Linked DNA regions of Homo sapiens. The protein of the gene in region 1 interacts with the protein of each later gene in a biochemical or structural test. Each region holds a gene or a part of one and is shown in the gene's direction. Other genes may lie near its edges. The genes, in order: LRP8, DAB2 and MAPK8IP2.

Region 1 (3,649 bases):
AATTCATCCATGTAACAAAAAACGTGTATCCCAAAAGCTTTGGGGGATAAAAAAAGAAAGAAAAAGAAAAAAAATGTGAAAAAAAAAGTATAGGGCAAGCTTTTTGAGCAAGCCAGGTGGGAGAAGCCTCATCCTCAGGAGGCAGGAAGACCTGGCATGTCCTGTCTGTGCCCCAGCTGTCTCCCTCTCTGCCATTAGCTCCAGATGCCTGTGAGCTGAGTGTCCAGCCTAATGGAGGCTGTGAATACCTGTGCCTTCCTGCTCCTCAGATCTCCAGCCACTCTCCCAAGTACACATGTGCCTGTCCTGACACAATGTGGCTGGGTCCAGACATGAAGAGGTGCTACCGAGGTAAGCAGACCTTCCAGGAGGGATGGCCCCTGGCAGTGTCAGACCCTACCCTGCTGAAATCTTCCCTTGGCTTCTGGGACACAGTATGCTGCTGGTTTTCTTCCATCTTCCCTGGTTACTTGTTGCCTTTTGGGGGTTTCTCTTTTTTACCTTCCTTGAATGCTCATGCCCCCAGGATCCTTCCAAAGCTTTTTCTCACTCCCAAGGAAAAAATGCACATATACATAAAACATTTTAAATTCAGTTTCAGGGAGTTTCTGGAACGCTTTAAAAACCTCAAGTTAAGAACCCTTAATCGCCGTGGCTTCAGGTACATGCAGATAACTATATATTTGCCTGTTTCTCACCTAGAACTTAACAAACACTACACAGCAGCCCTTTTGCAATATAATTGGGACTAATAGTTAATACTTCAACCGCATACACAGATTCATGTCCTAATCTTGATGTATAGCCAAGGCCTTTCATTTGAGCCTAAGTCTACTGCATTATTAATGATTTACAGGTTCAATTGTTTAAAGTGGAATAAGAATTTCAATCTATTGGTATAACAATATATGAGTGTAAAATCCTTCTAGATTTATCTGATTTCCCCTCCCTACAGTCTTTTTATTGCTGATCTTACAACTAATTCCACAGCAATGTTTTAATGACTCATCTTTATTGAATCAAAGTGAAGTGCTTAGCATTCAGCTAAAGAAAAGATCATAGCCCACTGGGGAGATTAGGAAAGGCTTCACAGAAGTGGCATTTGAGCTACGCCATGAAGATAAGTTCCTAAGTATATCTCAGAGGCAATACCTTAGGCAACAAAATTATCTGTCCAAGTGACCTCCATGGTATTTCCCCTCCAGCACCTCAATCTACCTCAACTACGACGTTAGCTTCTACCATGACGAGGACAGTACCTGCCACCACAAGAGCCCCCGGGACCACCGTCCACAGATCCACCTACCAGAACCACAGCACAGAGACACCAAGCCTGACAGCTGCAGTCCCAAGCTCAGTTAGTGTCCCCAGGGCTCCCAGCATCAGCCCGTCTACCCTAAGCCCTGCAACCAGCAACCACTCCCAGCACTGTAAGGAAATGAGTTCTGCATTCTTTCATGACATGGGAGGGCTCCTAGGGAAGCCAGGAAGGGGGTATGTGATAAGACAGAACCTACCAGAGCTGAATACTGCATATCTTTGAGGAGGTTACTGCATATCTGAGAGGGAGGTAGAGTACCAGCCTGCGATTTAGGACTCATAGGTGCCCCTACCTTACAGAGGGTCTTGTAGGAAGCTGAGACCCTGTGAGCCTCAGTTGCTTCTCTTACAAAGTGGAAATAACCACCCTTCCACAACCTGCTTCACAAGATTGCCATGATAGACAAAGGTGTAACCGGTATAACTGGAGGTGCTCACGCACACAGCCGTTGCTGACTCTGCGAGGGTGTGTGTGTCTATGTTTCACAAAGTTCTGATGTGTATATGAGGAGGTGTCCCTTGTGTTTGGAAAGCTCTGATCTCAGTTCACAGCAGGTCCCCAGATAGTAATATCTACAACCATGGTCTCCTTATACCTCTTTCCAACCCTGGGATGAAAATAATTAAGTTCACCACTTATTAAATCATTGGGAGCAGTAATTGTCACTGCTAGAAATGTTCTATCTCATTAATCAGCAAATACCTTTTTAATTGAGTTACCTGCCAGAGGGAGTTCATTTAAAAGGATAAACTATCTTTTTAATTTTTTCCCCTACATGGACAGCCCAGAAACCAAGCTGCTTGGCAACATCTTCCTAACTGGTCCTATTTGCCAGCAGAAGCTGGCTTTTTGGAGTGGAGCACTTACTCCGAAGTTTGCAGAGGCAGATGGAGCATGTGTGAATTCCAGTTCCTCTCATCTGAGGGCAGAGCCTCTCACCAGCTTCTCCTCACTGGCTTCCTCATGCTCTAGGTTTTAATATCACTGTCCAGTGTTCGCTGTGGCCCAGAGCAGGGAGGACAGCAGGGAGGACACAGTTAGCTCTGGAAGCAAGCAGTGCAGCTTTTTCTCCCCTTAACTGTTAGATTCTCTTGGAGTAACATGGATAAACAGTCACATTGAGAGAGGATGGGCCTTGGGCCATTGCCGGGACAGTCATCTCACCTGCAGCAAGTGTAGATGATAGCTCCTTTTCACACCACAGGGAGCTGTCAGGAGGATCTAAGGGAAAAATGCTTTCTGAACTATAAAGTGCTTCACAAATGTTACAATGAAGATGGTTATAAGAGTGAGAAAGATGGCATGGCATAGTTTTTCAAAAAGACAGTAAATTTTCCAAGCACTTTTCAGTTTAAAATGTGCTTTTACATATCTTTTTAAAATTTAGACCCTATTCAACAACCCCATCCCACTCTCCACCCTCTTAGAACTAGGCAAAGTTGTGCCAAGCATTTTATATTCATTTTAGATAAATTATTTCATTTAATCCTTACCATATCCCTAGGAGGTAGGTAATATCACCATTTTAAAGATATAAAAGTATAATACCATGTGCTGTATTTATAATATATAATAATTTGCCCAAGGTCACATGGGTAGTGAGTAGTAGAGCTGGGACTTGAACCCAGAAGTCTGACACAGAAGTCTGCGCTTTTGATTCCTCTACACTATACTATGTCCCATTTCAATTACTTATGAAAAATAATCTGATAATGCAGATGGACAGACAGTTCACAAAAAACAATACTGGCAAAGCAACAGATACTGATGGAAAAAGGCAAATGACCTAGTCCATCAGCAACATAAAGACCTAAGTGCTCACTTTGCCATGCACAGCCCCCAGCTTCCTACTACCATGATGCTATGGAAAGGGTATGGGACTTGGGACATGAGTCCTGGGTTCAAGTCCCAGCTCTGCCACTTTTCTGAAACCCCTCAGTTAAGACTCAGTTTCCTTGCCTGTAAAATGGAGATAACCTCTGTCCTGCTTGCCTCACAGGAGTTGTGATAGGATCTGGAAAGACTGAATTATTAGGCAACAGCCAGGATCATCATTTTAGAATGAGGATGAGCAGCAGTTGGGTAGTTCTTACCACTTGAGGCCAGTAGGGGCTTGGACACACAGTGATAGAGCATCATTCTGCAAATGTTTGTGTTTTGCAGATGCAAATGAAGACAGTAAGATGGGCTCAACAGTCACTGCCGCTGTTATCGGGATCATCGTGCCCATAGGTGAGTGTGGCCCCCAGTCACTGAAGAGAAAAGAGAGACCCTGCTTAGGCCTAGGGAAGAGCGCTAGCAGGGTAGAGAACTTGGCCTGCCCTATTG
Region 2 (3,649 bases), on another chromosome or scaffold:
GAGCAGGGCAGTTAAGTCCTCTTAAGGTCTATAGTTAATCCATACCCAAAGAACTGGAAAGTGAATAACTTCATCCCTAATTGTGTCCATATTGAACACAGCTGCCCTCTCGGTTCTAAATATTGCATCCAAATGATCTCACTTATTTTTTTATATTTTAAGTGTCCTATTAGGGGGCCAAGACCTGGTCTAGTTTTCTGTAATATGTAATACAGATGCTAACGTGCTTTTTGTTACCATTTAGTGCAACAGAAATAAACCAAATGTGTTTGAACATATGTCAGAGGGCTGACATAATCATATGAAGAATGCTATACCAGTTTGGCTTTGGGACGAAATGTGAATCTACTAGGGCAACATACAACTGCCCTCTGAGTCAGAAGATCAGAAGTTGCTGTGGCTACACATAGTAGGTGCTCAAATATCCATCCTTTAAAGGGAAGGGTCAGCTGTGCTTTAGTTATATCAGCATTAGGTTTTGTTGTTGTTGTTACTTGATTTTGTTTTGTGTTGCTCCCTGCCCCCTTTACCTCTAAAATTAAGCGACTTAAATGCAATTCATTTTTGAAGTAGAAAAAACAAGTATGTAGCTGATAGAACAGGCTTTTCCATCAATTGTTGGTTGCTAGTAAGGAGGGTCAATATTGATTTCTGCCTGGGCTAAGGTTCAACTATAGCTGAGGCTTTTCAGAGAGCATACATGTACTAGAATTGAAATGATAGACAGTTATATTTAATGTCCACGCTGTCTTCTAAAGGATAGCTTGATGCAGAAATGCTTGCTTAACTGCCTGAAAACCTGTTCTTTGTGATTTCTGATTTGTCTAACTGGTCTGAAGTTCCCAATGACTAAAAGTTGATAGTAATTGAAAGTTGGGTGCAAATATTTACCTTAGAGGGACACATATATGACAAGAGCTGCCTATAAGATAGTTAGAGAAAATAGTAACTACTCAACTAACATATGATTTTATTGTAGTTAAGTGGTACAGAGTGTTGTGTGGATCCAGAGGGAGAAAAAGGCCATTGGTGTTAATGGATTTGGCTTTTAAAGGAACAATGGAAGTCAAATAAGCAAAGGTAAGAAGAGAAAATGCATTTTAGGCAGCAGCGCATATGCAAATCATGCAGTTGGATGAACTTAGGATATGCCTAAAGAACTCTGACTGGTCAGTTTGGCCAAGAAACAGTACAGGTGGCATAGGGCTGAGAAGTGTCTGAGTTTGAAAAGTAGGGATGAATTATACTGAGCCATGGATGTCAGGATAAGAATTTTGATTTTTTTTTTTTATTTTTATACTTTAGATTCTGGGGTACATGTGGAGAACATGCAGTTTTGTTACATAGGTATACATGTGCCATGGTGGTTTGCTGCATCCATCAACCCATCACCTACATTAGGTATTTCTCCTAATGCTATCCCTCCCCTTACCCCCCAACCAGGCGCCGGTGTGTGATGTTCCCCTCCCTGTGTTGATGTGTTCTCATTATTCAACTCCCACTTACAAATGAGAATATGCGGTGTTTGCCAAGCAGATCCGTCATTAAAGCAGGAAAACCAAATGCTGATTGGGATAACTTAACCTGGCTCTATTGGCAGAATGTGTTTGAGTGGAGATTGCTTAGTAGTTGAAGAAAAGCCTATATTTCTTCAAAAATCATCAAAGTAGAGAAAAGGGTTGCTTAACCTAAGATTAAGGTGCAAAAAGAAATATTTATTACCCCTAATGTTTTAAGCGCACTGCTCATTAACAGACTGTGTCGAGCCTAGAAAAGTAGGGCAAATAATTTTCGGATCCCAAAAGCTTTATTGAATTGAGAGAAGAGCTCTACATGAATCAGAGGGCAATGATAGGTCATGGCAAATGTGAGGAAATGGCTGGTAAGAGGCCGGTAAAGACTTCCCTGAGACCACACATCTTGAGTGGCCTTGGAATGAAGGTTTTCACGAAATTCAAGAAGGTGAAGGCAGTACATATTACAGGCTAGCAGACCACATAAGAAGGTCTGGTGTGTCTATGTGTCTGTTTAGGGGAAACAGAAGACAACGGCCTCTTCAGAGAGCAGGTGGCCATGTATATGTATAGTCCACAGCCTGATTAGAAGGGCTTTGAATCTCAGCTTGAATGTGAATGGAGGAATTGAACACCGATACCTGATTAATTCAAAATCAGGAAAGCTAGGAGGCCAGTAAACACTCCTACAAAAATTTAGCCATAAAGGGAGATCAGTTACAACCAGAGTCTCTTACACCTTAGATTCTCACTGAAGCCCTTTGGAGAAAATGGAAGAAAGAGCTCATCCCATAAAGAGTTGTTTGTTTGTTTGTTTTTCACTTCAAGTGTTTTAAATATATTAAGGAGTACTTATGCTATGTGTGTAGAAAAGATCAACAAACACCATAATATAAGTCCGCTAATCATGAGGGACATGTATGATACAACGTGGTATAGCTTTTTAGGGAGGAGGAACTCAGGGTGGCGGTGAGGCAAGGTTGAGGAAAAATGCTGGAACTAAGTAAAAAAAAAAATATGATGGGGAGGGAGGAGAGGTGTGAAAATAAAGGGTAATTATGAAAAGTAGACTTTCAGAGGTTTGACTCATTCATTAAACATGAACAGTTTAGGATAAAATCTTAGCTTCATTCTAAGCTGCAGACAGTACTGTTGTGGATCTTTTAGGTATATCTGCATACGAAGTACATTCTGTAATGCTGTTCCCACTTAGTGTATAGTGATGCAAATGTTCAGTTTTCTGCACAAGAACTCTTTCATAGAAACAGTGGGCACAACCATGTTCTGTGTTAGGATCTGGACTCTTACACTTCATGCGGCCAACATTTGTGGAGGGCTCACTACTTGTATTGATCATGAAGTCCATTTCCTTGAAGACTGACATTGACCAAGTGCTGCCTGGTAGCCCCTTGATAATGCTCTTGTGACTTGGTAGTGCTCTTTAAATAACTAAAGCAAGCTGTAGGGACCCTTGGTTACATTTTCATAAGATTGTTTCACTGAAATCTGAGGTTCAATGTTTGGCCTGATCTGAAAGTGACACGTTGTATTCTTAGAAAATCTGGTAATTAAAAGTGCCACAGAACATGTCTGGTTCTAGAATACAGAAGTTCCCTGAATTGCTTGTACTTCTTAAGTGAATGCCAGACTGAATGCCAAATGAGCATAGTGTTTCCTTCTGGTGTTTATGAAGATAGTGTTGATTCAGAACTTTGGATCTTATGATAACTCTGAAGGAAACATCACTGAAATTCTTCAATACCCTCAGGTATAACAGAATTGCTTCCTTCTGTTACTGCCATACAGATGGTCCTTCAGATTGTAACGTGGTTATAGGAGACTCATAAATATTAAATGTAAATATCCCCTCAATTTGTGTCATAATTTAAAAATTGTTGAAGAGGGTTATTAACCCTTCAGACAACATTTGCATCTTTCCATAATTGATATCAATACAGCAATTTATATATAATTCCTTGATGTAATACTACTTTTTCTTCCTTTTATGAAGTATTATTAACAGCAATGAAGCTTTCTACCCTAATCAGAAACAATTCCTCCAAAACACATAGCATCAGTTATAACTGTGACCTGCTTGTTCTTTCTCCCCTACCTAACCTCTAAGCCCCTTTAGA
Region 3 (3,649 bases), on another chromosome or scaffold:
CCGCGGGGCGCGGGGAAGCGGGGGAGGAGGGCAGGGAGGATGGACTGGCTGCTGGAAGAGGCCTGGGTGGTGCAGAGAGGGTGACCCCACCTCCCTGCCCAGCAGAGCTCCCGGGCCCCCTCCCTGCCACGGACACCGGGCCCGGCGGGGCGCAGTCGCCAGTGCGCCCGGGTTGCGACTGCGAAGGGAACCGGCCTGCGGAACCCCCTGCGCCAGGGGGGACTTCGCCCTCCTCAGATCCCGGCATCGAGGCTGACCTGAGAAGCCGCTCGAGCGGCGGCCGCGGGGGACGTCGCAGCAGCCAGGAGCTGTCCTCGCCCGGCTCCGACTCGGAGGACGCGGGCGGCGCGCGCCTGGGGCGCATGATCTCGTCCATCTCGGAGACGGAGCTGGAGCTGAGCAGCGATGGCGGAAGCAGCAGCAGCGGCCGCTCCTCGCACCTCACCAACTCCATCGAGGAGGCCTCGTCGCCCGCCTCGGAGCCGGAGCCCCCGCGCGAACCCCCGCGCCGCCCCGCCTTCCTGCCCGTGGGCCCCGACGACACCAACAGCGAGTACGAGTCGGGGTCGGAGTCGGAGCCGGACCTCAGCGAGGACGCGGACTCGCCCTGGCTGCTCAGCAACCTGGTGAGCCGCATGATCTCCGAGGGCTCCTCGCCCATCCGCTGCCCCGGCCAGTGCCTGTCTCCTGCGCCGCGCCCGCCCGGGGAGCCCGTGTCGCCGGCCGGCGGGGCCGCCCAGGACTCCCAGGACCCCGAGGCGGCCGCGGGGCCCGGCGGCGTGGAGCTGGTGGACATGGAGACGCTGTGCGCGCCGCCGCCGCCCGCGCCCGCCGCGCCTCGACCCGGCCCCGCGCAGCCCGGGCCCTGCCTATTCCTCAGCAACCCCACGCGTGACACCATCACGCCGCTGTGGGCCGCGCCCGGCCGCGCCGCCCGCCCGGGACGAGCCTGCTCCGCCGCCTGCTCCGAGGAGGAGGACGAAGAGGACGACGAGGAAGAGGAGGATGCCGAGGACAGTGCGGGGTCCCCCGGGGGCAGGGGCACGGGCCCCTCGGCGCCGCGGGACGCGTCGCTGGTGTACGACGCGGTCAAGTACACGCTGGTGGTGGATGAGCACACGCAGCTGGAGCTGGTGAGCCTGCGGCGCTGTGCTGGGCTGGGCCACGACAGCGAAGAGGACAGCGGCGGGGAGGCCAGCGAGGAGGAGGCGGGCGCGGCGCTGCTAGGCGGCGGTCAGGTCTCGGGGGACACCTCGCCGGACAGCCCTGACCTCACTTTCTCCAAGAAGTTCCTCAATGTCTTCGTCAACAGCACATCTCGGTCCTCCAGTGAGTGAGAGGTGGGGAAAAGGGGGGTGGCCCAGAGGAAGGTGCAGACTCCCTGGCCCCAGTCCCAGGGTCCCCCACAGTGCCCAGGGCCACCTGAGGGTCTGGCTGTGGTCAGGGCTGGGTGCCCTCTCCCACCCAGGACATGGCATGAGGTGGCCTGCTCTGCCTCAGCTCCTTCCCGCTCGTAGGACACCTACACCGGACTGTGGAGGGGACTTGGCCTCTGCCCAAGGCCAGGCCTCTAAGCACTACTCTGACTCTGTCTCCCTGTCTCCCCCGCCTCTGTCCTGCCGGGTCTCCCAGGCACCGAGTCCTTTGGCCTTTTCTCCTGTCTGGTCAACGGCGAGGAGCGAGAGCAGACTCACCGGGCTGTGTTCAGGTACGGCCTCCCTCCTTGCTGGCGGTGGCCCCAGCCTCAGTCCCTGCCATCACGGAACGCCAGTGGACACGACCGTCAATCCCGCCCCCCTCCCCAGTGACCTCTCCCCCAACGGCAGGTTCATCCCGCGGCATCCAGACGAGCTGGAGCTGGATGTGGATGACCCTGTGTTGGTGGAGGCCGAGGAGGACGACTTCTGGTTCCGTGGCTTCAACATGCGCACGGGGGAGCGCGGTGTGTTTCCTGCCTTCTACGCCCATGCGGTGCCCGGCCCTGCCAAGGACCTGCTGGGTGAGGTCCCAACCCCGAGGGGAGGCTTTTCACCCCAGATCCTCCCCTGTGCCCCTGCCTGACCTGGGCCCTCTGTGCCCCGCTCCCCAGGGAGTAAGCGGAGCCCCTGCTGGGTGGAGCGCTTTGACGTGCAGTTCCTGGGCTCCGTGGAGGTGCCCTGCCACCAGGGCAACGGCATCCTGTGTGCAGCCATGCAGAAGGTCAGTGTGGAGGCCGGGCAAGTGCAGGCTGAGGGTCCGCTTGGCGGCCACACCAGCACTGCAGGCTGGCACAGGGCTTGAGGCTCCAAGGTCTGAGGTCTGATTTCCTCCAGGGAGGGTCTGGGGGATGCTGCAGGGGGAGCTCGGGGTGGGTACCCCAGGCCCTGGTTCAGAGGCCTGAGCAGGTGAGTCTAGGGCAGAGCACAGCAGCTGTCCCTCATCACCTCTGGGTCTCTGGGCCACAGATCTTCCAGGTGGCCCCGACTGCCATCAGCCCTTCCTCTTCCCATCTGGAATCAAGACCAGCCCTCACAGCCCCTTCCCTGGGAGCCCTCTACTCATCCACTCACTCAGTGGACGTTTAGTGAGCACCTGCCCAGGCACCAGTACTGAGGCTGAGGCTGGGGGGCAGTAGGGAGCAGGGCAGAGCAGCCCAGGGCGGGTGAGGTCTCTGTTCCTGGCTCCTGAGCCAAGCGCAGCAGCCTGCCTGGAGGAGCAGAAGGAAGATGAAGCAAGCTGACTGCAGAGAGGCGATTGCTCCTCCTGAGCCTGAGGAGTGGCCAAGGCCACACCCCTTATGTCTTCCAGAATTGCATCTCAGGGTCCTCAGCATGTGTGTCCTCAAACATAAGCTAAAAGGAGCAGAGGCGTAGTCCCACCAAGGGGAAAGAAAGGCCCTTGTGGGCTCCTCAAGACCCTCTTCTCCCCCAACTTCTTCTGTAGATTGCCACTGCCCGGAAACTGACCGTCCACCTGCGCCCTCCTGCCTCCTGTGACCTCGAGATCTCTCTTCGGGGGGTCAAGCTGAGTCTGAGCGGAGGAGGGCCCGAGGTGGGAGTGTGGGGGACTGGGGACCGGGGACTGGGGGATAGGGTTAGGCCACGGAGTCCGACGGGGCCAGGCTGGCAGGGGTGTCCAGTAGGTGGGAGGCAGGGGTGGCGCCAGGCCTCCTTTGACACAGGGACTTCTGCCCACCTCTGCTCTAGTTCCAGCGCTGCAGCCATTTCTTCCAGATGAAGAACATCTCCTTCTGCGGCTGCCATCCCCGCAACAGCTGGTGAGAGTCTGACCGTCCCCGAGTCCCCCAACCGCCCCCACAAACCCTGAGAGTCCAACCGCCCCCTGAGTCCCCACAGACCCTGAGGGCTGCCCGTGCCCAGCCCTGAGAGCTCCACCTGCACCCACTTAGCTCTGTGAGCTGAGCCTGCAGTGGCGCCTGCTCTGAGCTGGACTCAGGAGGCGTGGGTCAGACAGGCTTGCATCCAGTCTGGGTGGAGAGAGGCACACGGGCGAAGGATGTGAGAAGCCTGTGTGGGTGCAGAGGACGCCTGAGTGGGCCTGGGGCTCAGGATGGCCAGCCTGGAAACACAGCAGGTGACAGCGGTGGGGAAGTGGATCTTCCTGGTGGGGTCTAGCTGAGCCAAGGGTGTGGGATGCACTGGTCGGGGGC

Evidence for each region.
Region 2: the proteins of LRP8 (region 1) and DAB2 form a complex in vitro, tested with the Homo sapiens proteins (one study listed by BioGRID).
Region 3: the proteins of LRP8 (region 1) and MAPK8IP2 form a complex in vitro, tested with the Homo sapiens proteins (one study listed by BioGRID).

What each region holds. Positions count from the first base shown.
Region 1 is NC_000001.11:53,255,021-53,258,669, reverse strand, and holds part of LRP8 (low-density lipoprotein receptor-related protein 8 isoform 1 precursor), read left to right. Parts: intron 1-198; coding exon 199-351; intron 352-1,205; coding exon 1,206-1,430; intron 1,431-2,188; exon of another isoform or gene 2,189-2,542; intron 2,543-3,414; exon of another isoform or gene 3,415-3,484; coding exon 3,485-3,553; exon of another isoform or gene 3,554-3,573; intron 3,574-3,649. UniProt on the Homo sapiens protein: Cell surface receptor for Reelin (RELN) and apolipoprotein E (apoE)-containing ligands. LRP8 participates in transmitting the extracellular Reelin signal to intracellular signaling processes, by binding to DAB1 on its cytoplasmic tail.
Region 2 is NC_000005.10:39,414,941-39,418,589, reverse strand, and holds part of DAB2 (disabled homolog 2), read left to right. Parts: intron 1-3,649. UniProt on the Homo sapiens protein: Adapter protein that functions as a clathrin-associated sorting protein (CLASP) required for clathrin-mediated endocytosis of selected cargo proteins.
Region 3 is NC_000022.11:50,603,736-50,607,384, forward strand, and holds part of MAPK8IP2 (C-Jun-amino-terminal kinase-interacting protein 2), read left to right. Parts: intron 1-102; coding exon of another isoform or gene 103-105; coding exon 106-1,329; intron 1,330-1,632; coding exon 1,633-1,708; intron 1,709-1,826; coding exon 1,827-1,999; intron 2,000-2,089; coding exon 2,090-2,199; intron 2,200-2,922; coding exon 2,923-3,030; intron 3,031-3,185; coding exon 3,186-3,256; intron 3,257-3,649. UniProt on the Homo sapiens protein: The JNK-interacting protein (JIP) group of scaffold proteins selectively mediates JNK signaling by aggregating specific components of the MAPK cascade to form a functional JNK signaling module.